7 linked regions of the Homo sapiens genome follow. The protein of the gene in region 1 interacts with the protein of each later gene in a biochemical or structural test. Each region holds a gene or a part of one and is shown in the gene's direction. Other genes may lie near its edges.

The links.
Region 2: the proteins of SIPA1L2 (region 1) and KCNA7 interact in a test that uses a peptide from one of them, tested with the Homo sapiens proteins (one large-scale study listed by IntAct).
Region 3: the proteins of SIPA1L2 (region 1) and KCNV1 interact in a test that uses a peptide from one of them, tested with the Homo sapiens proteins (one large-scale study listed by IntAct).
Region 4: the proteins of SIPA1L2 (region 1) and NOSTRIN interact in a test that uses a peptide from one of them, tested with the Homo sapiens proteins (one large-scale study listed by IntAct).
Region 5: the proteins of SIPA1L2 (region 1) and PTPRZ1 interact in a test that uses a peptide from one of them, tested with the Homo sapiens proteins (one large-scale study listed by IntAct).
Region 6: the proteins of SIPA1L2 (region 1) and PDLIM4 interact in a test that uses a peptide from one of them, tested with the Homo sapiens proteins (one large-scale study listed by IntAct).
Region 7: the proteins of SIPA1L2 (region 1) and IGSF5 interact in a test that uses a peptide from one of them, tested with the Homo sapiens proteins (one large-scale study listed by IntAct).

The regions. Positions count from the first base shown.
Region 1 is NC_000001.11:232,511,634-232,515,133, reverse strand, and holds part of SIPA1L2 (signal-induced proliferation-associated 1-like protein 2), read left to right. Parts: coding exon 1-1,277; intron 1,278-3,500.
Region 2 is NC_000019.10:49,069,900-49,073,925, reverse strand, and holds the start of KCNA7 (potassium voltage-gated channel subfamily A member 7), read left to right. Parts: upstream 1-1,226; 5' UTR 1,227-1,340; coding exon 1,341-1,895; intron 1,896-3,047; coding exon 3,048-3,863; 3' UTR 3,864-4,026. UniProt on the Homo sapiens protein: Mediates the voltage-dependent potassium ion permeability of excitable membranes.
Region 3 is NC_000008.11:109,972,972-109,977,185, reverse strand, and holds the start of KCNV1 (potassium voltage-gated channel subfamily V member 1), read left to right. Parts: upstream 1-1,414; 5' UTR 1,415-1,567; intron 1,568-1,993; 5' UTR 1,994-2,797; coding exon 2,798-3,258; intron 3,259-4,214. UniProt on the Homo sapiens protein: Potassium channel subunit that does not form functional channels by itself. Modulates KCNB1 and KCNB2 channel activity by shifting the threshold for inactivation to more negative values and by slowing the rate of inactivation.
Region 4 is NC_000002.12:168,858,137-168,861,636, forward strand, and holds part of NOSTRIN (nostrin), read left to right. Parts: intron 1-1,375; coding exon 1,376-1,501; intron 1,502-2,658; coding exon 2,659-2,773; intron 2,774-3,384; exon of another isoform or gene 3,385-3,500. UniProt on the Homo sapiens protein: Multivalent adapter protein which may decrease NOS3 activity by inducing its translocation away from the plasma membrane.
Region 5 is NC_000007.14:122,060,349-122,062,536, forward strand, and holds the end of PTPRZ1 (receptor-type tyrosine-protein phosphatase zeta isoform 1 precursor), read left to right. Parts: intron 1-731; coding exon 732-872; 3' UTR 873-1,688; downstream 1,689-2,188. UniProt on the Homo sapiens protein: Protein tyrosine phosphatase that negatively regulates oligodendrocyte precursor proliferation in the embryonic spinal cord. Required for normal differentiation of the precursor cells into mature, fully myelinating oligodendrocytes.
Region 6 is NC_000005.10:132,270,825-132,273,954, forward strand, and holds the end of PDLIM4 (PDZ and LIM domain protein 4), read left to right. Parts: intron 1-90; coding exon 91-269; intron 270-478; coding exon 479-642; coding exon of another isoform or gene 643-966; coding exon 967-1,084; intron 1,085-1,200; coding exon 1,201-1,405; 3' UTR 1,406-2,630; downstream 2,631-3,130.
Region 7 is NC_000021.9:39,765,683-39,769,182, forward strand, and holds part of IGSF5 (immunoglobulin superfamily member 5), read left to right. Parts: coding exon 1-170; intron 171-3,500. UniProt on the Homo sapiens protein: Provides, together with MAGI1, an adhesion machinery at tight junctions, which may regulate the permeability of kidney glomerulus and small intestinal epithelial cells. Mediates calcium-independent homophilic cell adhesion.

The DNA.
Region 1 (3,500 bases):
AGCTGTGCCCAAGATGGGTGTGAGAGCAAGGGTGTCTGAATGGCCTCCTAAAAAGGACTGTTCCAAGGAGCTAACATGCAAGGCACTGTGGGAAAGCCGGTCTCAGACCAGTTATGAAAGCATCACTTCTGTCCTGCAGAATGGGCAGAGTGACCAGAGTGAAGGTCAGCAAGATGAACAGCTCGATCTGGACTTCGTGGAGGCCAAGTACACAATCGGAGACATCTTTGTCCATTCCCCCCAAAGAGGACTTCACCCCATAAGACAGAGGAGCAATAGTGATGTCACTATCAGTGACATTGATGCCGAAGATGTCTTAGACCAAAATGCAGTCAACCCCAACACCGGGGCTGCCCTGCACAGGGAGTATGGAAGTACTTCATCCATCGACAGGCAAGGCTTATCTGGTGAAAACTTTTTTGCTATGCTCAGAGGGTACCGAGTAGAAAATTATGACCACAAAGCAATGGTCCCTTTTGGGTTCCCTGAATTTTTCCGCTGTGACCCTGCAATCTCTCCGAGCCTTCATGCAGCAGCACAGATTTCTAGGGGAGAATTTGTCCGCATCTCAGGATTAGATTATGTGGACAGTGCCCTCCTGATGGGGAGAGACAGGGACAAGCCTTTCAAACGGAGGTTGAAATCAGAGTCGGTGGAAACATCTCTCTTCCGAAAGCTTCGAACTGTTAAAAGTGAGCACGAAACTTTCAAGTTCACGTCTGAGCTGGAGGAGAGCCGACTGGAGAGGGGCATTCGCCCTTGGAATTGTCAGCGATGTTTTGCACATTATGATGTCCAGAGCATTTTGTTTAATATCAACGAAGCCATGGCTACGAGGGCTAATGTGGGGAAAAGGAAAAACATAACCACTGGGGCATCTGCAGCATCCCAGACTCAGATGCCTACGGGCCAGACAGGCAACTGTGAGTCCCCTTTAGGGAGCAAGGAGGACCTCAACTCCAAAGAGAACCTGGATGCCGATGAGGGTGATGGGAAAAGTAACGACCTCGTCCTTAGTTGTCCTTACTTTAGAAATGAGACTGGAGGGGAAGGCGACAGGCGGATTGCGCTCTCTCGAGCCAACTCATCCTCTTTCAGTTCTGGGGAAAGCTGCTCTTTCGAATCGTCACTCAGCTCTCACTGCACAAATGCAGGTGTCTCCGTCTTGGAAGTGCCCAGAGAAAACCAGCCTATTCACAGGGAGAAAGTGAAGCGCTACATCATAGAACACATTGACCTTGGGGCCTATTATTACCGCAAATTCTTCTATGGGAAAGGTAAGGAAGAGCCATGGGCGTTTGCATGTGTCTCGGGAGTAGTTTTTTAAGAACCAGTCACAATGTTTTGCTTTGTGTTGGAGCACCTTCCTCAGAGTGTCCAAGGCCATAGTCCACTGGGCCTGACCTTGTTCTCCATCATGGTCCCTCCATAGCTTCCAGGCTAATTTTTTCTTTAGAAAACTGCAATTCCATGCCTTTGTTTATGGGTAGTCCTTAATGTGTAAATGCCCTTTTGGTTTCTCTTTCTGTCATTCTTTGTCTGCCAATTTGTGATCATCACAAATTCAGACTTGATTTAGATTTCATCCCTTGTAAGAAGTCTTCCCTGATTAATTCTGTCCTCCTCCTATTCCTCTGAATAATCTCTTATGCTGCTTACAGTGGAAAATTCTGTGTTTCCCTCACCTCTCTAATCTTTCTGTACTTTGCTTCTCCAGCATTGCTGTATGTGTTGGACATGTTAAATCTTTGTTGAAAGAATGCCTGAATTACCACAACAGACAAATTTTGTTTTCATGTAGTTCTATAGATGGGCTTAAATGTTAAGACACAAGTGATAAATTATTTAATTCTATGTCAAATAAATGGTTTTTGCTTTACGTATATCTTCAGGCTTGAAGGATGCATTCTTCAGAGGTCATGTAGTTGAATCCTCAACCTTTAAATAAGTGTCCCTAATTATCCCAGGGCTAGGAGAATCTTCTCTGATTTAAAGACCTACAGAGAAACAGGTTCCACATGTGTCAGTAACACATGCCGAGGAAAACACTCCGGCACCTCTCACCACCTTCTTATTGGGTGCAGCTGGTGTCCTTCACGCCTTCATTATAGTGCAGCTTACTTTTCAGAGCTATATTTTTCTGTCTTCAGTTTCACCCGTCAGCCCTCTTCCTGCTCCCAGGGATCCAGGGATAACCTCACAGAGTGCCTGAGGAGGCAGAGGGTGGGCCCCGCTACTCTCCTCCTCCTTTTTCTCAGTGCATAAACTATTCTGCTTCTAGCACAGATAGCTGGGAGCTCACTGTACTTTTATTTATTTATTTTTTTTTTTACTTTAAGTTCTGGGATACATGTTCTGAACATGCAGGTTTTTTACATAGTTATACTTGTGCTATGGTGGTTTGCTGCACCTGTCAACCCATCATCTGGGTTTTAAGCCCTGAATGCATTAGGTGTTTGTCCTAAAGCTCTCCCTCCTGCTTATGAGTGAGAACATGCAGCGTTTGGTTTTCTGTTCCTGTGTTAGTTTGCTGAGAATGATGGTTTCCAGCTTCATCCATGTCCCTGCAAAGGACATGAGCTCATTCTTTTTTATGGCTACATAGTATCCATGGTGTATATGTATGGTAGTTTCTTTATCTAGTCTATCATTGATGGGCATTGGGGTTGGTTCCAAGTCTTTGGTATTGTAAATAGTGCTGCAATAAACATATGTGTGCATGTGCCTTTATAGTAGAATGATTTATAATCCTTTGGGTATATACCCAGTAATGACATTGCTGGGTCAAATGGTATTTCTGGTTCTAGATCCTTGAGGAATCGCCACACTGTCTTCCACAATAGCTGAACTAATTTACACTCCCACCAACAGTGTAAAAATGTTCCTATTTGTCCACATCCTCTCCAGCATCTGTTGTTTCCTGACTTTAATGATCGCCATTCTAATTGGCGTGAGATGGTATCTCATTGAGGTTTTGATTTGCATTTCTTTAATGACCAGTGATGATGAGCTTTTTTCATATGTTTGTTGGCCGCATAAATGTCTTCTTTTGAGAAGTGTCTGTTCATATCCTTTGCCCACTTTTTGATGGGGTTGTTTTGTTCTTGTAAATTTGTTTCAGTTCCTTGTAGATTCTGGATATTAGCCCTTTGTCAGATGGACAGATTGCAAAAATTTTCTCCCATTCTGTAGGTTGCCTGTTGCCTCTGATGATAGTTTCTTTTGCTGTGTAGAAGCTCTTTAGTTTAATTAGATCCCATTTGTCATTTTTGGCTTCTGTTGTCATTGCTTTTGCTGTTTTAGTCATGAAGTCTTTGCCCATGCCTATGTCCTGAATGGTATTGCCCAGGTTTTCTTCTAGGGTTTTTATGGTTTTAGATTTTAATTTCATCAGTATTGGTTTCTGTCTTGAGAATATTTGTGTAATTTTTGACTGTAGTTTGTTTTATTGGAGTGGGTTGGGGAGGGTGGGTAACACAGACCTTAGGAGGTCACTCTGT
Region 2 (4,026 bases), on another chromosome or scaffold:
CTTTTGCCAGAGTCATAGCCGCAGCTCAGGTCCTGCTAGGTCTCAGAAAGTCTTGCGAAGAATCCAGGTGGAGACTCTGGAGCGAACTCTGGGGAGAGAATGGGGCGTGTGTGCACATGCTCAGTGGTTTGCAGCTGCCAGAGTGACCCTAGGATGGGACAGCCACCGGGACTGTGGCAGCACCCACATGGAGTGATGGTCAGGGAGAGATCAAGAGATATGACTCCGGAGACCCTAAGTCCTCTAGAGACCCCAAGGGGAGACCCAAAGGGGAGCGGCCGAGGAACCCTGAGACAGAGACATGGAGGGCTAAGAGATAATGAGCAAAAAGAGACCTAGAGAGGAGAGACAAAGAGACCAAGAGAGACAAGAGATAAACGGAGACAGACCAAGAGTCAAAATAAAGGCGGAGACCGAGACGTAGAGGCTGGCAGAGGGACCCATACAGAGGCCCCCAGAACGACGAATCTCAGAAATAAATGACCCATAGAGATACTCAGAGATACATCCCAAAAGAGACAGAGACCCAGAGGGGACAGCCGGACACAGACACACAAGAGAGTGAGAGACAAAGGTGCAAACAGGGCGACTCCAGGCCGGGCGCCGTGGCTCACGCTTGTAACCCCAGCAATTCGGGAGGCCAAGGAGGGCAGATCACTTGAGGTCGGGAGTACCAGACCTGCCTGGCCAACATGGTGAAACCCCTTCTCAACTAAAAAAGAAAAAAGAAAAAAAATTAGCTGGGCTTGGTGGCGCCTGTAATTCCAGCTACTAGGGAGGCTGAGGCACGAGAATCGCTTGATCCCGGGAGGTGGAGGTTGTTGCAGTGAGCCGAGATCGCGCCACTGCACTCCAGCCCGGGCGACAGAGGGAAACTGTGTCTCAAAAAAAAAAAAAAAAAAAAAGACAGAAAGAAAGAAGAAAGAGAAAAGAAAAGAGGCGACTGCAACTGAAGCCTGATTCTGACGAAACACACGCACACGGAAACTTGGAGAGACGCAGGACAGGATCCCGGCGGCAGAAGGACGGAGAGAAAGGGGACCCCGGGACGGGAAAGGCGCAGAGCAGGCGCGGGCGGCGGCGGCGGCGGGGCAGGGCAGGGCGGGCGTCCCGGCAGAGGGCGCGCGGTCGCCCTGTCGCCCTCCGCCCCGCCGGGGTCACAGTGCCCCCTCCCTCGCGCCCTAGCCGCCCTGCCGGGCTATTTTTACGCGCGGACACCGGACACCGGACACCGGGCTGGGGCGGCGGCGGCGGCGGCCGAGGCGGCCGAGGCGGGGCCGCACCGGGGCCGGGCGTCGGGGCCACACGTCGGTTCGCGGGTCGCCGGGGCTGCGCGCGCCATGGAGCCGCGGTGCCCGCCGCCGTGCGGCTGCTGCGAGCGGCTGGTGCTCAACGTGGCCGGGCTGCGCTTCGAGACGCGGGCGCGCACGCTGGGCCGCTTCCCGGACACTCTGCTAGGGGACCCAGCGCGCCGCGGCCGCTTCTACGACGACGCGCGCCGCGAGTATTTCTTCGACCGGCACCGGCCCAGCTTCGACGCCGTGCTCTACTACTACCAGTCCGGTGGGCGGCTGCGGCGGCCGGCGCACGTGCCGCTCGACGTCTTCCTGGAAGAGGTGGCCTTCTACGGGCTGGGCGCGGCGGCCCTGGCACGCCTGCGCGAGGACGAGGGCTGCCCGGTGCCGCCCGAGCGCCCCCTGCCCCGCCGCGCCTTCGCCCGCCAGCTGTGGCTGCTTTTCGAGTTTCCCGAGAGCTCTCAGGCCGCGCGCGTGCTCGCCGTAGTCTCCGTGCTGGTCATCCTCGTCTCCATCGTCGTCTTCTGCCTCGAGACGCTGCCTGACTTCCGCGACGACCGCGACGGCACGGGGCTTGCTGCTGCAGCCGCAGCCGGCCCGGTGAGAGGCGGGGCGTGGGTGGAGACGGGCGGGGTTTGGGAGGAGATGGGCGGGGTCCAGAGGGGACCTGGCCAATCATAAGGCGGGGCCAGGGGCTGCGAGGGGTGGGCCAGCCGAAGACAGGGTGGGCGGGAGGCGGGGCCTGAGGATCCGGGTCGGAGGACCTGCCCCATCAGAAGGTGGGGTTGAGGTCAGTGAGAAACCCGGCGTGAAGAGGGCAGGGCCCTTGATGCAAGGGGTAGGAGGACAGGAACCTTAAAAATCACAGCTGAGGGGGGCCAAGGAGAGCCTGAAAACTCCGGAGTCTGTGCGGCTGGGTGGTGAAAGCCAGGCCCTGAATAACTCCAGCTGAGGGTGCTGGAGCCCGAGGGGCGACAGTAGGAGGAATCTATGGAAAGAAAGCCAGGTTGAGGGGCCAGAGGAGGGGGCCTAGGGCTCGGCTTGCAGAGAAGGTCTTTTTTTTTTTATTTCCTGTGAGACAGAGTCTTGCTCTGTCGCCCAGGCTGGAGTGCAATGGCGCTATCTCGGCTCACTGCAAGGTCTGCCTCCCGGGTTCAAGCGATTCTCCTGCCTTAGCCTCCCAAGTAGCTGGGATTACAGGTGCAGGCCACCACGCCCGGCTAATTTTTGTATTTTTAGTAGAGATGGGGTTTCACCGTGTTGGCCAGGATGGTCTCTATTTCCTGACCTCGTGATCCGCCCGCCTCGGCTTCCCAAAGTGCTGGGATTACAGACGTGAGCCACCGCGCCCAGCCGCATTATACTCTGGGCTGGGACTGTGGAGGGCAAGGAAAAGCTAGGCACAAGGTGGTGGGGCCAGGGCAGGGATGCTCCCCATCTAGAAAATCAACACTGGAGGCGGGACTTTGAGAGAGAAGAGGTTGCACCCTACTCAAACATGAGTTCCCACGCATGAAGGGGCAGGGACCACGTCTCCAGCCACCCACCAGGTCAGGCAACCAGAAAGTCAGCGGCCCAGGGATGATCCCTGGGATCCTGGGAGGAAGTCTGGGATAACCAGGTCACGGAGGGCCTTGGCGCAGCGGCTACTGACCAATGTGTAAAGAGGAGCTGGGTATTTAAATGATGATTAAGGCTGTCCCCGTGTCCTAGCCCCAGCCTGACCCTCCCTGAACACTTTCCTCCCTGCAGTTCCCCGCTCCGCTGAATGGCTCCAGCCAAATGCCTGGAAATCCACCCCGCCTGCCCTTCAATGACCCGTTCTTCGTGGTGGAGACGCTGTGTATTTGTTGGTTCTCCTTTGAGCTGCTGGTACGCCTCCTGGTCTGTCCAAGCAAGGCTATCTTCTTCAAGAACGTGATGAACCTCATCGATTTTGTGGCTATCCTTCCCTACTTTGTGGCACTGGGCACCGAGCTGGCCCGGCAGCGAGGGGTGGGCCAGCAGGCCATGTCACTGGCCATCCTGAGAGTCATCCGATTGGTGCGTGTCTTCCGCATCTTCAAGCTGTCCCGGCACTCAAAGGGCCTGCAAATCTTGGGCCAGACGCTTCGGGCCTCCATGCGTGAGCTGGGCCTCCTCATCTTTTTCCTCTTCATCGGTGTGGTCCTCTTTTCCAGCGCCGTCTACTTTGCCGAAGTTGACCGGGTGGACTCCCATTTCACTAGCATCCCTGAGTCCTTCTGGTGGGCGGTAGTCACCATGACTACAGTTGGCTATGGAGACATGGCACCCGTCACTGTGGGTGGCAAGATAGTGGGCTCTCTGTGTGCCATTGCGGGCGTGCTGACTATTTCCCTGCCAGTGCCCGTCATTGTCTCCAATTTCAGCTACTTTTATCACCGGGAGACAGAGGGCGAAGAGGCTGGGATGTTCAGCCATGTGGACATGCAGCCTTGTGGCCCACTGGAGGGCAAGGCCAATGGGGGGCTGGTGGACGGGGAGGTACCTGAGCTACCACCTCCACTCTGGGCACCCCCAGGGAAACACCTGGTCACCGAAGTGTGAGGAACAGTTGAGGTCTGCAGGACCTCACACCTCCCTAGAGGGAGGGAGGGAGGGCAGGGTGGAGGGCAAGGCTGGGGGGAGGGGATTGGGTTTAGGAAGAGCTAGGTTAAGTCGTAACGAGTGGGGAAACACTGAGTCTTGTTGGGTCTTGGGTTGTGTGGTT
Region 3 (4,214 bases), on another chromosome or scaffold:
GATGCTGGAGGAGTTTTCTTGCTGTGCAGGGGAAAGCTCTGCTACATTAAAAAATAATAACGATACAGTACCTATACAGAATGAAGAACTGTTGACTGGGATAATTCTAGCATTTCTGTATTTACTGTATGGAAGAGTTCTTTAAGGAGAAAAGTTAACCAAATGGATGGCTGTCAAAAGAACCATGCTTATAAATATTATAGTTTAAAAAAGTTTATTGAAGTCCCCCATTTATTCTCAGAGGATTACTATAAGCTCCACAACAACAGAGATCTTGTCTATTCTTCATTGATACATCGCAAGTACCTTGAATAGTGCCAGTATATAGTGAATGCTCAGTAAACTTTTGTTGAAAGAGTGATGAAAATACCTCATTAAACTCCTGTCCTTCATTAGAAACTTGTAAACAAAGAAAATAAAAACAATCACACTGATTTATCAACAAAAAATAATGTTTCTAGAATTTTGTTTATGAAGGCAGCCTCTGACATGTAGTCCTGGGTTTGATTTGAACTGTGTGGCCCTTTGCAAATCACTTAATTTCCCTGTGCCTCACTTTTCCTTTCTGTAAAATGGATATATGCTACCTCATAGTGTTGTCATTATGATTAAATAAGGTACTGCATGAATAAAGAGCCTACAAATTTCCTGGCATAAAGTAAGCACCCATTAAATGTTGGGTGTTTTCATTAAAGCTTGAAATTTCACTGAGGAAGGCACTGAGACCCTCAAAGTAAATGATAGCTAGACGTCCCACAGCCAGTTGGCAAAGCTAGAACTAAACAGTCACGTTTCTGTCCAATCTATGAAAAAGCTTATTCTACTACATCAGGCTGCCTGCTTATGTCTTTATATATACTACCTAATACGTGTGTGTGTGTATGCTTTCTAATATATACTTATATATGTAAGTGTATCCATAATATATGCTTTCCAATATGTATTCTATATATACATACTAGAAAACAACGAAGATGAGTGTGGTTCACTCTCTCTGGCAAAGACTTGAAAAATGCATGATTCTGAGATGCCTGCTGAAAATGTGAAAACCTTGAACCATGCCAAATGAAGCAGTTAATATAACTGCCCTAACCTCAAGTTTAGCACACTGATCCAGTTGGAAATTTTGCTCTGGAGCATTTACAAAAGCACAGATCCGGGGAAACGGGAATCAAATGCAGTAATTCTGCAAGTGTATTCAGGATGAATGTAATATTGAGTGTCACCGGGCACCTCACTACCCCCCGCCTCCACCCCCGCCGTCTCACCTCCCTCCCTTAGATCCTGCCACTCCCCTCTGCTGGTGCTGGAAGCACTGGGCGAGTGGCTCTCAGAGCTAGAGCGGGCGGGGCGGACACGCTTAGCGTAAGCGCAGGGGCCAGGAGCCCGGAGGGAGGTGGAGGCGGGGCAAGGCAAGGCAGCAGGCGCTGGGTAGAGCTCAGCTGGAACACAGTTTCCCTCCTGGACCGGTCGAGTCAGACCTCACGTGTAGACTAAGAGGATCAAAAGAAGAGTACGTTACCTGCGGCGCCGGTTGTGCGCAGACCAGATGTGCCGGGAGCTGCAGGTGAGTCACTTGCTCTTCCCTCCCACCCCCACCTCCTCACCCCGAGTCCAACAGGTTGGCTGGAGCGCAGCTTCCAGGGGCCCCGTGGGTACACTTCTAGTCTCACCTGGGCGCTGGCCTCGGCTTCTCCCTTTACCGAGGGAGGCCGTCGTTACTATTTAAATTCCTGCCCCAGCCCACGCTTGTTCTATTCCTTGTCTTTTTGCCTTTCCTTCTAAAATGAGAGCTCCGCTGTGCTCAGAACACCTGCTCTCCGGGAAACTTGTAGGGACAGAAATGGTTAAAAGGAAGGGTGCCTCAAAAAAGTGCCTCAACACGAGGTGGACCCTCGACAGGGTGGGAGCTGACAGTGACACTCCTAGTTCTTAGTGACCCACTGGGTCTTCAATAAAAAGTCATCATTAATTATTCTTGTTTCTCAACCAGGAGGTCAGAACCTAAGGGAGACGGCGGAAGAAAATGGAGCGTCAGTGATCATCAGACTAGAATGAGAGTGAATTGGGAGAAAATGGTGCGGCCCCCTCACCCAGAGAACCCTCCCCCACCTGCTCACACCCCCAGCGAACACCCCGGGGGAGGCCTATGAAGCAGCAGTAAAAGAAAAGGGAGGAATATAAATTCTCAAGTTGGAAGGGACCCGGTTACCACTTCCTTTGCTTTCTGAACTTTTTGTTTTGGTCTCCTGCGGGCAGGAGTGAGTCTCGCCATCCCCCTTGCTTGCTTGCTTGCTTGCGTTCAGCTAAGAGTCATCTTCTCTCCTCTTCCTCCTCCTCCGCCCCACATCTCCCTCCTTCCTCCCTTCCCCAACCCCTCCACCCACCAAGTAGCGAGTCATTCAATCTGTACACCTCCTGGGCTGGGAATCGCAATTGCGAAGTTGGGAGGCGGGGTGACAACGTTTGGGAAGGGCCAGGGCGACCGGCAGTGTGCACAGGGACTGTGTCGGGCTTGGACCTCACCTGATCCTCTCTCTTAGCGCGACCCTTCCTCTGCTCCCTGTCTCCTCTTTCTGCCACTTGTGCGCTGCTTCCGCGCACTCCCGGCTCCCTAGCGGCAGGAGGAGGAAGGCGCACAGCGGGTGGAGAGGGTGCGCCAAGGAGAGGTAACCCCTTCGGGAGCCCGGGGAATCCCGGCCGCCACCAGGGGCCGTGCCACCGCCCTCGCGGGACCAAAGCTTCCGGCGTGTCCCCAACTTTGTGGCGCCCTCAGGCCGCGGCGACTGGGTTAGAGATGCCTTCCAGCGGCAGAGCGCTGCTGGACTCGCCGCTGGACAGCGGCTCCCTGACCTCCCTGGACTCTAGTGTCTTCTGCAGCGAGGGTGAAGGGGAGCCCTTGGCGCTCGGGGACTGCTTCACGGTCAACGTGGGCGGCAGCCGCTTCGTGCTCTCGCAGCAGGCGCTGTCCTGCTTCCCGCACACGCGCCTTGGCAAGCTGGCCGTGGTGGTGGCTTCCTACCGCCGCCCCGGGGCCCTGGCCGCCGTGCCCAGCCCTCTGGAGCTTTGCGACGATGCCAACCCCGTGGACAACGAGTACTTCTTCGACCGCAGCTCGCAGGCGTTCCGATATGTCCTGCACTACTACCGCACCGGCCGCCTGCATGTCATGGAGCAGCTGTGCGCGCTCTCCTTCCTGCAGGAGATCCAGTACTGGGGCATCGATGAGCTCAGCATCGATTCCTGCTGCAGGGACAGGTACCCCGGAGGCACGCGGCGGCTGGGCGGGGAGGCGGGCGCGGCAGAGAAAGAGAGGAAGGCACAGGTAGATTTGAGGCTTTACACAAGCTTCGCTGGAGCCAGGCCTAGCAATAAGGTGTGGCCACTTCTGGGCTGACAGGTGGGGTGGGGGTGGGGGACTGGAAAGCATCAACGCCAACTTTTGAATAGAACTTTTTGAATCTCTTTGTTCCCTTTTTTGAGTATGCTAATTTAACGTATAAGGCAAGGGACTTCAGGCCCACAATAAATATTTGGTGACTGAATAAATGAATCAGAAACGCCATGCTCCAAAAATGCATGCATAGGGATAAAAGATTTGGCACGCAGCATTATCATTTATCAAACCTAGAACACTGACTTTGAAAAACTTGAATGGAGAATTGTTTTAAATATAGAAGATAAAAGGTTGGTCCCTTGATTGAATGATTGTGGAACTCTGAGGTTACCTTGCTATTACTACCATTTCTTCATGAATACATTTCCTTTACACACACACAAAAAAGTTCCACCTGCCAAACATCTGTTCTTACCAGAAAATGGGTAATAAAATGTATTAATCCAAAGTAGCTTTACTATGTATACACTTCTACTAAGAAAGTGTCATTTTAAAAATTATAATCCAGGCCGGTCGTGGTGGCTCACGCCTGTAATCCCAGCACTTTGGGAGGCCGAGGCGGGTGGATCACTTGAGGCCAAGAGTTCGAGACCCCCCCTGGACAACATGGTGAAACCCTGTCTCTACTAAAAATACAAAAATTACCCGGGGGTGCTGGTGGTGCGTACCTGTAATCCCAGCTACTCAGGAGGCTGGGGCAGAAGAATCGCTTGAACCTGGGAAGCGGAGGCTACAGTAAGCCGAGATCACTCCGCTGCACTCCAGCCTGGGCGACAGAGCAAGACTCCGTCTCAAAAAAAAAAAAAAAAGGAAAAAT
Region 4 (3,500 bases), on another chromosome or scaffold:
GCACAGAATTTTGTCATTGTCATTACCAGCATACATGTATTAGGATCATCTGGGTCCTCTCACCTGAAGCACACAGTGGAGGACACAAGGAGGGAGAGCATCTGACCTTGGAACTTCCAATGTTTATGATCTGGTGAAGGAGCAACTATGAACCTTTAAGTGAGGAATGCCAAATATCCACATGATTTCATTACGCATGCTCTGCATCTGGGTAGACAGAAACTAGTGATACTGGTAGATTTTGTGTCACCCACGGAAGGTTTCTAGGATGAGGAAACTTTTATTTACATTCTTCCTTATTTCATTATATCTTGGTCCTTGAAGTGCCATGTTTGAATCAAGAATGTTCACAAGCAGTGTCATAAGAAAAATTGTTGAGAAAACTGGAGGCACTTAGATTAAATACTGTCTTTAGAGACCAGAAAGAGGGCCACATAGAAGAAGAACTAGATGTGCTCTATGAGACTATCAAGTGAAGGTCTAATGGTAGAAAGCATGGGGGAGCTTTTAGTTTTGTCTTAGGTAAGCCTGCCCCACAATGCAGTGGATTCCTCCAACGATTAGAGACTTTCTCCATCAATTGGATGTCTTCTGTCCATGGCTGTGACACCCTGGCAGGGATATTAGGGTTGGGAATTCCCATGCTGGAGGTGTGGGGGAGAGAGGGATAATGGTGAGGAGGGGGCTGGATAAGCAAGACCCTTCCAATGCTTAGATTCTGTTATTTAATTCACCCTGGCTGGACCCAGCCTGACAAGGTAATTATAAAGTTTCTAGTTCAAGGTCATATCAAGAACAGACAGAGACTAGGAGTGTATCTTTAGCTTGACTTATTATGTTTATACTCAAATGCCCTAAAATATTGTTCCCAGTTTCCAGAAGTATTCCTGTAAACTTTGTGGGTAATATAAGACCTCACCTTATCAAAGAACAAACAAACCTCACATTCAATTTCATTTGCGTCTATTGATGTTAATTCAATTCTGTTCACAATATTTAGCACTGATGGCTCACCTTCTTCGCAGACCACCAAAAATCTACCTTCTACAATCAACACTTATCCCCTTTCTTGTCCCTCAGCAGAAAATTGAGTAAAACCTCTTCATTGCCATAAAATACTAATATATTACCAAGGTTTCCTGTTCACCCCCAGAGTACAGAATGAGACACACTCAACAACTAAAACCTCCCTCTAAACTGCTTAAAGAGTTTATTCCTCCATTTTTTTTTCCTTCGGCATTTTCTGTGAATATCTGTATGAGTTAAATGCGTACTTTTCTAACCTTTGTTATTTTGAAAGTTATTCTGATATTCCTATCCAGTTGTGCCTCATTTACTAGAAATTTGCTCACATGGCCAAATGATGTATCCACAGAACAATTTGAAACTAGACCTTTTGGAAGCGAACTCCTACAAACTGTCATCAATGTTAGCAGAACTTGAGCAAAGACCTCAACCCAGCCATCCTTGTAGTAATTCCATCTTCAGGTGGAGGGAAAAGGTAACATTTAAGGAGACTGGTTGTAATTTCTTGATTGGGCCTGCTGGGTGGAGTGGCTTAAAGTAGCATCAGGGCAAAAAAGGTGTTAGGAATTCTATGTGATATTAATATTCATGCAGTTAGTTAAGAAGATAAATGTTTTTATTTTTCTTTTGAGCACAATAACAAGAGCTAGACAAAACCGAATACATTCTGTGTACACCAAACTTCTATGAGAAGCTAAAAAACACTTTTGATTTCTTCTTTCTCATCATACCTGAATTTCATCCTTTGGATGTGCTTTTACAGTAAAATTTCTATTAAATTGAAATTTTAATATTCGTTCAGACCTAAATTATAAGATTTTGTGGTATGTATTAGTCTCATCTGTTTAAGATGGTGCCTAATGCAGATAATGCATCAGTACAGCTCTGAAATGCTTGTAGCTATTTTTATTACTGATCAGAAGGGGGAACTGTAATCATCTTGTGAAGGGACAGTTTTCTAAGGCTCAAGAGCTCGAAAACAATCTCAATCATTTACAGGGTTGTGATCATTTCACTTGCATTAAGCCAACTAAAGTTGTATTTGTAAAAGTAATGCTATGAATATTACTATTTGACCTAGACACATAGGTTAGAATTGGAAACACAGGCTATAAAGTATAGTAATTGTGTAATTGTGAAAATATTAAGGCTTCAACTCAAAACTGAAACACAGTAGGGCTTAGAAATCTTTGAATTATTTATACCCCTCAGTTTAAAAACTTCCAGTCCAGGCGCAGTGGCTCATGCCTGTAATCCCAGAACTTTGGGAGGCCAAGGCAGGCGGATCACCTGAGGTCAGGAGTTCGAGAGCAGCCTGGCTGACACGGTGAAACCCCGTCTCTACTAAGAATACAAAAATTAGCCAGGCATGGTGGTGGGCACCTGTAATCCCAGCTACGGGGGAGGCTGAGGCAGGAGAATCACTTGAACCCGGGAGGTGGAGGTTGTAGTGGGCCAAGATCATGCCACTGCACTCCAGCCTGGGTGACAGGGCAAGACTCTGTCTAAAAAAAAAAAAGAAAAAACAAACAGAAAAAACAACTTGAGGAAAACAGCTACAGAAGAGTTAATTTTCATGAATGTTTATGATAATCGTGTTACAAAATATGACTTTTTATGTCATTTGAACAGGAGCATACTCATAGCTATGTGAAAATATCTCGGCCTTTTTTAATGAAGAGATTAGAGAATATTGTGAGCAAGGCATCTTCTGGTGGGCAGAGCAATCCAGGTTCTTCAACTCCAGGTAATCCCATGCCCACAATCATTTTGGCCTGGGTCCTACTGGCAGGGCACATTGCTACATTTAAATTTTAGTTTCAGAGCCACTTTGACCTGTATCTGTTTAAGGAAATTTATATTTCCATTGGGACCGATTAATTTGTTAGACTCTGTAGCTTTATGTAAAAATGGGAAAAAGTTAAGAAGAGTAGAGGGTTGGGAAAGTATCCTATGAGAAGTTGCCTCAGATATCAGATGACTGGCATCCACCTTATTCAAATGGCCTGTTATTTGCCATAAACATAATCACACCTAAACCATCGTGAGGAGCTTTGTCGCTCTGTCTCCATAGCCTCCTCCAAACTCCCATAAGAAGCCTGTCCTCTCTGCGAGACACATGGTGATCCAGGTGGTTTGCCAGGGCTTGGACTCATGGCCTACAAACTCCTGTTAGCAGCCATCTGACTTCAGTCATTCATGCACCCACACACCACACTGCTCTTCATCTTTCAGCACACACACACGTGTCACTGTACCTGCATGTTCAAGTATAATTACCATAATCTTGACTATCTAGTTTTTTAAATTAGAAATTGGTTTAAAAAAAAAAAAAAGAACTTCAGTAAAACCAGGACATTATGGTTCACACAATATATTAAGGAGTCACTGTTGCATTGTTTGAGAAACAGTTCCATACACAGCTAGGGATGATGATAACATGCACATGCCCCAAATATCCCGTATTTATACCT
Region 5 (2,188 bases), on another chromosome or scaffold:
TGGAGATGCACAGTTCGCGAAAGCATTTAATTATGCACTGCGTCACATGTAGGCCTCATGGTTTTCGGCTATGATGCTGCTCACTGGTTCAGGTTCTCTGTAGCTACCTCTCCCCAAACTGCCTGAGATGGCATCTGTAAGAGAAAAACTGTTTCATGCTTCTATGTGCCACTGCTCTGAGACCACAGCAGAGAAGGTACTTACCTTTGCTCATAGCAGGGCATAGGACCAGTTGGGCTGATAGAATGTGAAATTCTTCTTATTGGTGAACAGTGAAGGATTGCATTCTACATGGGTTCCTGGGCTAACAGTACAGTCATTCCTGAGATCTTTCCGTAAAGAGGCAGACCCAATGGATTTTCTAACAAGTAGAGAAAGAAGAAACTTGTTTCTGAGTGAGTTACAGATGTCCAGTGCCAAACGGTTTCGCCCACAAGTTAACAGAACCCTGTCTCATCACCTTCTGATTTCATGAATAAGAATTAAGTACTTATTGGCAAATGTATGTAGGTTAATTTTCTAGGTCAGTGAATGGTCTGCCGATTGCAACGTTAATTTAATCAGAAGAGACATCAGTATAGGTTGTGTGCATCTGCTGAGTATAACAGTGCCCTTAACACATTGCCCTTTCATGAACAGTGCTGAAGTGTGTCTAAAAATATTTCTTCTTTTTACAAATGTATGTCTTCACTGAGCTTCGCATTTATTACCTCCCATCTTCTGTTCTCTAGGAGCAGTATCAGTTTCTCTACAAAGTGATCCTCAGCCTTGTGAGCACAAGGCAGGAAGAGAATCCATCCACCTCTCTGGACAGTAATGGTGCAGCATTGCCTGATGGAAATATAGCTGAGAGCTTAGAGTCTTTAGTTTAACACAGAAAGGGGTGGGGGAACTCACATCTGAGCATTGTTTTCCTCTTCCTAAAATTAGGCAGGAAAATCAGTCTAGTTCTGTTATCTGTTGATTTCCCATCACCTGACAGTAACTTTCATGACATAGGATTCTGCCGCCAAATTTATATCATTAACAATGTGTGCCTTTTTGCAAGACTTGTAATTTACTTATTATGTTTGAACTAAAATGATTGAATTTTACAGTATTTCTAAGAATGGAATTGTGGTATTTTTTTCTGTATTGATTTTAACAGAAAATTTCAATTTATAGAGGTTAGGAATTCCAAACTACAGAAAATGTTTGTTTTTAGTGTCAAATTTTTAGCTGTATTTGTAGCAATTATCAGGTTTGCTAGAAATATAACTTTTAATACAGTAGCCTGTAAATAAAACACTCTTCCATATGATATTCAACATTTTACAACTGCAGTATTCACCTAAAGTAGAAATAATCTGTTACTTATTGTAAATACTGCCCTAGTGTCTCCATGGACCAAATTTATATTTATAATTGTAGATTTTTATATTTTACTACTGAGTCAAGTTTTCTAGTTCTGTGTAATTGTTTAGTTTAATGACGTAGTTCATTAGCTGGTCTTACTCTACCAGTTTTCTGACATTGTATTGTGTTACCTAAGTCATTAACTTTGTTTCAGCATGTAATTTTAACTTTTGTGGAAAATAGAAATACCTTCATTTTGAAAGAAGTTTTTATGAGAATAACACCTTACCAAACATTGTTCAAATGGTTTTTATCCAAGGAATTGCAAAAATAAATATAAATATTGCCATTAATTTGTGTTTGCTTGTGGAGCATTGTGCTGAAGCGTGTGTGGCAGAAAATTGTGGATGTGGGTCCCCCTATGATGATGGCACACACACACACAAAAAACAGCTAGTAGGATGGGACAGGATTTAGAGTGGTGGGTCCCAAACTGTGCATTGAGGTGCACAGGGAAGTACAAAACTTTCCATTTGTGAGGAAAACACAGCAACATGTGCAGACACTGCACAAACTTTTACTATTAAATTATTTGAACTTTACTACTTAATGAACAGAACAATTATGTATTTCTTTTGGCTTGGGGAGTGCTATGATCTGAATGTTTATGTCTCCCGACAATTTATCCCCTCACCCTCAAGGTGATAATATTAGGAAGTAGGACCTTTGGGAGGTGATTAGTTCATAAGGGCAGAGCTCTCATAAATGAGATTAGTGTCCTTATAAAAGAGGCCTGAGCGAGACCCCTCACCCCTTTCGATGTGTGAGATTATGATGAGAAGACAGCTGTCTA
Region 6 (3,130 bases), on another chromosome or scaffold:
CTGGCACAGCACAGCAGGGTGGGGGTGGGGTGAACAAGGAATGGCTGGAGGCCAGAGGGTCTCCCAGTGCCTTAGGCCTCTCTCTAATAGGACGGCAGCCCAACAACCAGCAGGCGGCCCTCAGGCACCGGGACTGGGCCAGAAGATGGCAGACCAAGCCTGGGATCTCCATATGGACAACCCCCTCGCTTTCCAGTCCCTCACAATGGCAGCAGCGAGGCCACCCTGCCAGCCCAGATGAGCACCCTGCATGTGTCTCCACCCCCCAGGTAGCACAGAGATGCCTTCGGTGCCATGCCCAGAACCCATCTTAACCCTTGATCCCTCAAATCTCACCCAGTCCCACTCTGACCCCTGACACTTGATCCTTGGGTCTTAGCTGGTTGCATTCTGACTCATAAGCCTTACCAGACCCCAAGTCCACAGGGTGAAGGCTGGAACTGCATCCCTTCCTCCTCTATTTCTTTCTCCCTCCCAGCGCTGACCCAGCCAGAGGCCTCCCGCGGAGCCGGGACTGCAGAGTCGACCTGGGCTCCGAGGTGTACAGGATGCTGCGGGAGCCAGCCGAGCCCGTGGCCGCGGAGCCCAAGCAGTCAGGCTCCTTCCGCTACTTGCAGGGCATGCTAGAGGCCGGCGAGGGCGGTAAGACGCCTGCCACCTGTCCCCATCTGCCTTCCCACTCCCTGCAGTGCCCAGGTTGCCCCCTAGCGACCCCACGTCCCGCCTCGCAGTCACCTGCCCTCTTCGGTCTCTGCGGCCCGGTCCCACGCCCTTGCTACAACCTTGCTACGCCCTGGCTTCCCGATTCCCTCTCCACCCCCTGTCGCTGCCCCTCACCCCACGCCCGCCAAACCCGTTCCCCAGTCTCGGGTGCCGATGGCCCGTCTGGCGCCCAACCAAACACCCCGCAGAAATGGAGTTCTGACCTCCTCACCCCGTTCATGCCACCTACGCTCCGGGTTTCAGGGGATTGGCCCGGGCCTGGCGGCCCCCGGAACCTCAAGCCCACGGCCAGCAAGCTGGGCGCTCCGCTGAGCGGCCTGCAGGGGCTGCCCGAGTGCACGCGCTGCGGCCACGGCATCGTGTGAGTAACCGCCCCCGCTGCCCCTCCCGGACCCTAGCCTTCCAGGGCCCTGGATGCGGGCGCAGTCGTGAACCCATCAGTCACTCGACGCTGTCCTGTCTCGTTCCCCCCATCAGGGGCACCATCGTCAAGGCACGGGACAAGCTCTACCATCCCGAGTGCTTCATGTGCAGTGACTGCGGCCTGAACCTCAAGCAGCGTGGTTACTTCTTTCTGGACGAGCGGCTCTACTGTGAGAGCCACGCCAAGGCGCGCGTGAAGCCGCCCGAGGGCTACGACGTGGTGGCGGTGTACCCCAATGCCAAGGTGGAACTCGTCTGAGCTGGGACCCTGCTCCCACGCCTGCTTCTTAAGGTCCCTGCTCGGCCGGTGTAAATATGTTTCACCCTGTCCCTCTAATAAAGCTCCTCTGCTCCACCTTGAACCTGTCACCTGGCCTGCCACCCTCCTGCGCAGGCCATGCATGGCTCCCGAGTACAGTAGTATCTGCTTAGGTGCCAGGCATGTCCTAGGCTCTGGGTGCAGTAGTGAGCAGGACGGGTACCATGCTGCCCTGAAGGGGGCCACAGCCTGGGTGGAAGGCAGACCTGAATCACAACGGGCCAGCTCTAGTAATACGAAGGTGAGGTCTGGGATGCTGCGTGCGGCGCGACGACAGGAGGTATGACCTGGGTGGGGTCAGGGAAAGTCTTAGCTGAGAACTAAGAGATGAGGGAGGCACAAACTCTGCACGGGGGAACTGTGTGTGCAAAGGTGAGCTGGGGGCGAGAAAGGCCTCTGTGGCCGTCATCGGCACTAGCGGGTTGGGGGTGGTGGTGGGGTGCTGGCAGCCTCAGGAGCGATCGCTCCCCTGGAGAGGGTGATTGAGTGTGGAGATCACCGGGGCCGCCGCGGGCCGTCTGCACTTCTGTTCCAGGTTTTTCTGGCATTTTCTGTTCCAGGTTTCTTCCACCCACGAGCACTTTATTCTCCTCCGAGACCCCCTTTTCTTCCCCTTCCTCTCTCCCCCACCAGGGGGCGCGCTTAAATTTCCAGACAGAGACCAGAAGGAAGGTTTAGAAAGAAAAGAACACTTGCCCAGGGCAGCTTTGCCCTCCAAGAGGCTCCCTCCTGTCTCTAAGTCAATTCCACCCCTCCTCGAAGTCCCGGCTTCCACCCCTCTCCTCAGAGTCCCGGCGTTTACCTCGTGGTGTGTTTGCCTTGGGCCTTTCATGCCCCGGCTGCACACATCGTCTGTGAATTGTGGCTGTTCACTCCCGAGGATGTGTCCTAGACTCCGGGTCGCGTGGATCTACCCTCTAGTTTACTTGCTCGGGAGAAGAAACTGACTCGTTTTATTTAGTGCCTATTTAGCGAGCCCAGAGTAACGTACATTTGTGCTGTTTTCAATTTTGTGCTATCGCAAATCACAAAAAAACTGTTATCAATTCACATTCATCATCAGCACGAGACCCATTTCCTTGTGCTCCTGCCAGCTCAGGATATTATGTTTCTTTTTTCATTTTTGCCAGTCTGTTAAGTAAAATGTCATATGCGTTTGTTTTAATTTGCATTTCTCTGATTACCAGTGATGAACATTCAGTTTTTGAGCATTTATGGTGTGTTTGCTGGGTGCCTAGCACTAAGGGAACAGAGTGGTCCTCACTCTCAAAAGAGCAGTTCTTGTGTAAGTTACCCCAAACCCTTCATGATTTTTTTCCAAGGCTTATTTAACTTCTTCTTAATGATTGGTAGGAACTTTTCCTAATTTTGTACGAATCTTTGTTACTGGATTCTGGTCATCTGATCTATTTCCCTGTTAATGTATAATTACTACTGTGTTGGAGTTTAATAGCCAATCTCTCCTCCTTGTTGGTCATTTACAAACCTGTCAAAGCTATTCCTCTACATTTCCAGTTGTCAGAAGTTGAGACTGCATGCCTCAGGCTCTGGAAAAGCAAACCTCTGAACTGTGACCAGGTTGCCCTGAATCTAGGGACTCACTTGGGAAGAACTGGCATTAGTCTTTTCCTCCAGAGAGGACTGTGATCTGCACTTCCTGTGCAT
Region 7 (3,500 bases), on another chromosome or scaffold:
CATGGAGCCCATCATCACCAATGACCGCTTCACCTCTCAGAGGTACGACCAGGGCGGGAACTTCACCTCGGAGATGATCATCCACAATGTGGAGCCCAGTGATTCGGGGAACATCAGATGCAGCCTCCAGAACAGTCGCCTGCATGGATCTGCTTACCTTACCGTCCAAGGTGTGTATGCAGGTGGCTTCTGAAGTCCATCAGGTTAAATGTCAGAGGGCAGGAAGGACCTTCTAAAGTTCATGCCGCGTATGATGGCAGACGTGGTCTACCTTCAGTTGGTGTTGACCTACAATTATTCTGAACTGATGAATGTTTTGCGATTTATTTGTCGCCTCCTTCCTCCCTCATGCTCTCCCTACCTCCTCACTTCTTCTTCCCTTCTCCCCCTCTCTTCCTTCCTGTGTGCTCTAGCCTTCAGTTGGCAATAGGCTTAGAATTATTCTGGATGGACTAATGTTTATTGTTTCGTTGATTTATCCCCCTTCTTCCTCACTTCCTCCCATCTTTCCCTTTTTCCTGCTTCATTCTCTTTCTCCTTCCATCTTTGCTTTCCTTTTTTCTGGTTAAGACTGATAGAGACAGATTTTATCACTTCCCCTTTGAATCCATTTTAGTATTTAACAGCCTTTCTGGAAACGTATCCTGGAATTCTTCTAGGGCCAGTTGCAGTCATTTTTCTTTGATTTAGAGACAGTTGTCAATCACTGCCCTTTCTCTAGTTTTTCCATATACATGACTATATTTCTCTGCTTGCATCATTTATCAACTCTGAAGCATGCTTTAACTCTTTCCTCTTTCCAGCAGAATCCCCCCAACTTATTTCTCTACCCTGCCTCCAACTACAGTGGGATAGTCATTATAGTCAAAGTTGTGTGTTCACCAAATATATCAAGTCATTGAGAGAAAAGAAAAGAATAAACAAAATTTATAATAATAGCTTATTTTTCATTTTAGAGGTAATTTGGAGGTGCTGAAGATAATGTTACACAGTAAAAAAGTAAAAGGATGCTTTACAAAGATTTGGAATAGTCTTACCAAAATTTAATCACTTTGCATTCTTTAAAAGTGTATTTATACTCTATTTAAAGATATAGAGTGCCTGATTTCCATGGCAGCATTTCTTATAAGAGAATATATTATATCTTATAAATTATTTCTTATCTCTATATATTTACTTGTCTGGAAGAAATTCCCAAAGATTTTGTTCATATTTATGTTGCTATTAAATCAGATTTGATAGCCTTTGGTGGAGACATGTCTACCTATTTCTATTTGTGTTTTAAAAAATGTTTTTTATTTTAGAAATTTAGCTAAATTGGTGTGTCTTACTTTTGTGTGTTTTTAATTTTGTGTAGTTTAATTAGGGGCACAATTCTATTTTCTAAATAAGTGATTTTATAAGGCTATTTAGGACTGTTGGCCTATGTTGCATAACCAGATTCTTATTATGATAATTTGTGATATAAGAGAAAGAACAGAGGAAAAAAGAATCAAAGATATAAATTCTGGTTTTGGCTTCATCAGTTATCTATCAGAGAGACCCCTGAGATGGCTCAATTTCTTCATCTTTAACCTGGAGATGAATCTTCCCGGCCCACCTCATGGGTTTGTTGTGTGGATCAGGTGAAAAAATGGCTAAAGATGGTTTGATGACTCCAAAGTCCTGTCTGATTCAATTCCCTGCACATTAAGTTGGGAGCCAGAGTGGTCTAGTGGTCAGGAGTGCAGACTTGGGGCTTGGCTGCCTGGGTCCATGTTACTGCTTTATGACAATGTGTGACCTGGGACACAATTACTTAATGACTTTGAGTCCTAGTGTCCTCATCATAGGGCTGCCGTGGTGTCAAATGAGTAGGTCTATGTAAAGCCTTTACCACACCTGGCTCATAGCAATCACTGTATGGCCATTTGCTATTATTTATTGTGCTCCCAATAAAAGCATGCCATTGTGTTGGTTATTTAAGAGTGACTCAAAGAGGAATAGAATAAGACACAGTTTCTTTCTTTAGAACCTCACAAGAAGAGTGGATAATGCAAGTTGCACAAATAATAGGGATGCCAGCCACCCAGATGCTGGCAAGTGAGATGGAAGGGAGGCAAGCTCAGGTTCCAGTCGGGAGGGGAGCTGACAGAGTCAATAAAGCCTTCATGGATGATTTCATGGAGAAGGTGCCATTGGAGATGTGCCTTCCAGGTCTGTAGATGGTAGACAGAATGGGAAAGCAAGAGAGGAGGAGGGCATCCCTGGAGCAGGGAAACACAGGATCACAGGCATGGCTTATTACTGCTGTACTTATGACACATCACATTCAGAAACCATGTGGTTTTGTAGCATCTTTTCCCAAAGTCACAAGTCTACAAATTTGTCTGAATCCCGCTGACTTTTTATATATTGGTAATTATGGTAGTTTTTGGTTTTAATACAGATGAAAGAGCAAGCATCTAGAGAAGGCAAAGACTTCTCCAAGATATTGCGAGAGGAACCCATAGAGCTTGGCCTGAACTTCATCCCTTTATCCTCATCTCATTGCTCTGAATGGCACTTAGTTCCTAGAGGAGCAAATGTTCTCTGAGCAACAGGGTCTCCCTCAAGGGAGAAAGAATCTTGAAAAAAGAGGAAACAACCATGAATTATTCTATGATTTTTTCACCTCCTTATATGTCAACAAAATAGAGATGACATAACTCCAAATTGAGTCATCTGAAATCCATGTGAATATTCTAGTATCACTTTTGTATAAAGGGTTTGTCATGCTACTGGCTAACCTTTGTGAAAGCCAGTGGGGGAAAGTGGAATCCCAAGTGTATACAGAAAAAGGAAATCCTTCAGATCGCTGAGTTGGTCCACTTGCTGCCTTATCCACCAATCAATCACACACCAAACTCTAGACCTCTTATGTTTTGAGGGCTGCAAGGACTTGAGTTCAAGAGCTTCTGTTATTAACTGAGACAATATCATTCCTCCCAGTTCTGTCATCTTAAACCGTCTCTCTGTCAAACAAAACAAACACAAAACCCTTTAGACTCAAGGGACAAACCCTTTCTCCACTCCTTGTTGCATTTACAGTAGCCCTTGAATTAGCAAAAGTGCCTTTCTTATTCCAAGGGAATATTCAGGAAGGAATAATTGGGAAGCTAACATTTCAGAGCAAAAAGATCTTTCAGAGCCGACCCAGTTCACTGTAGTCTAGGGACTCCTTGATGTACCCTGAGATCCTTTCAGGGTGGTCTATGAAGTCATGATTGTTTTCATAATAATATGAAGATTCCTATTATTGTTGCCTTTTTCACCCTTCTTCTCACAAGTGCACAGGAGAGCTTTCCACTATACATTGGGAAGGTCTGCATGCCTCAGAATTTTCCAGATGACTGAAGTGTAACAAAATCATGCAAGGATAAAAGGTCCATTCAAAGTGCCAGATAGTGCAATGGGTTTCAACATAACAGAAAATGAAAGTTCCTTGATAGAGTTTCAGATTCCACTGTGTAACAAACATT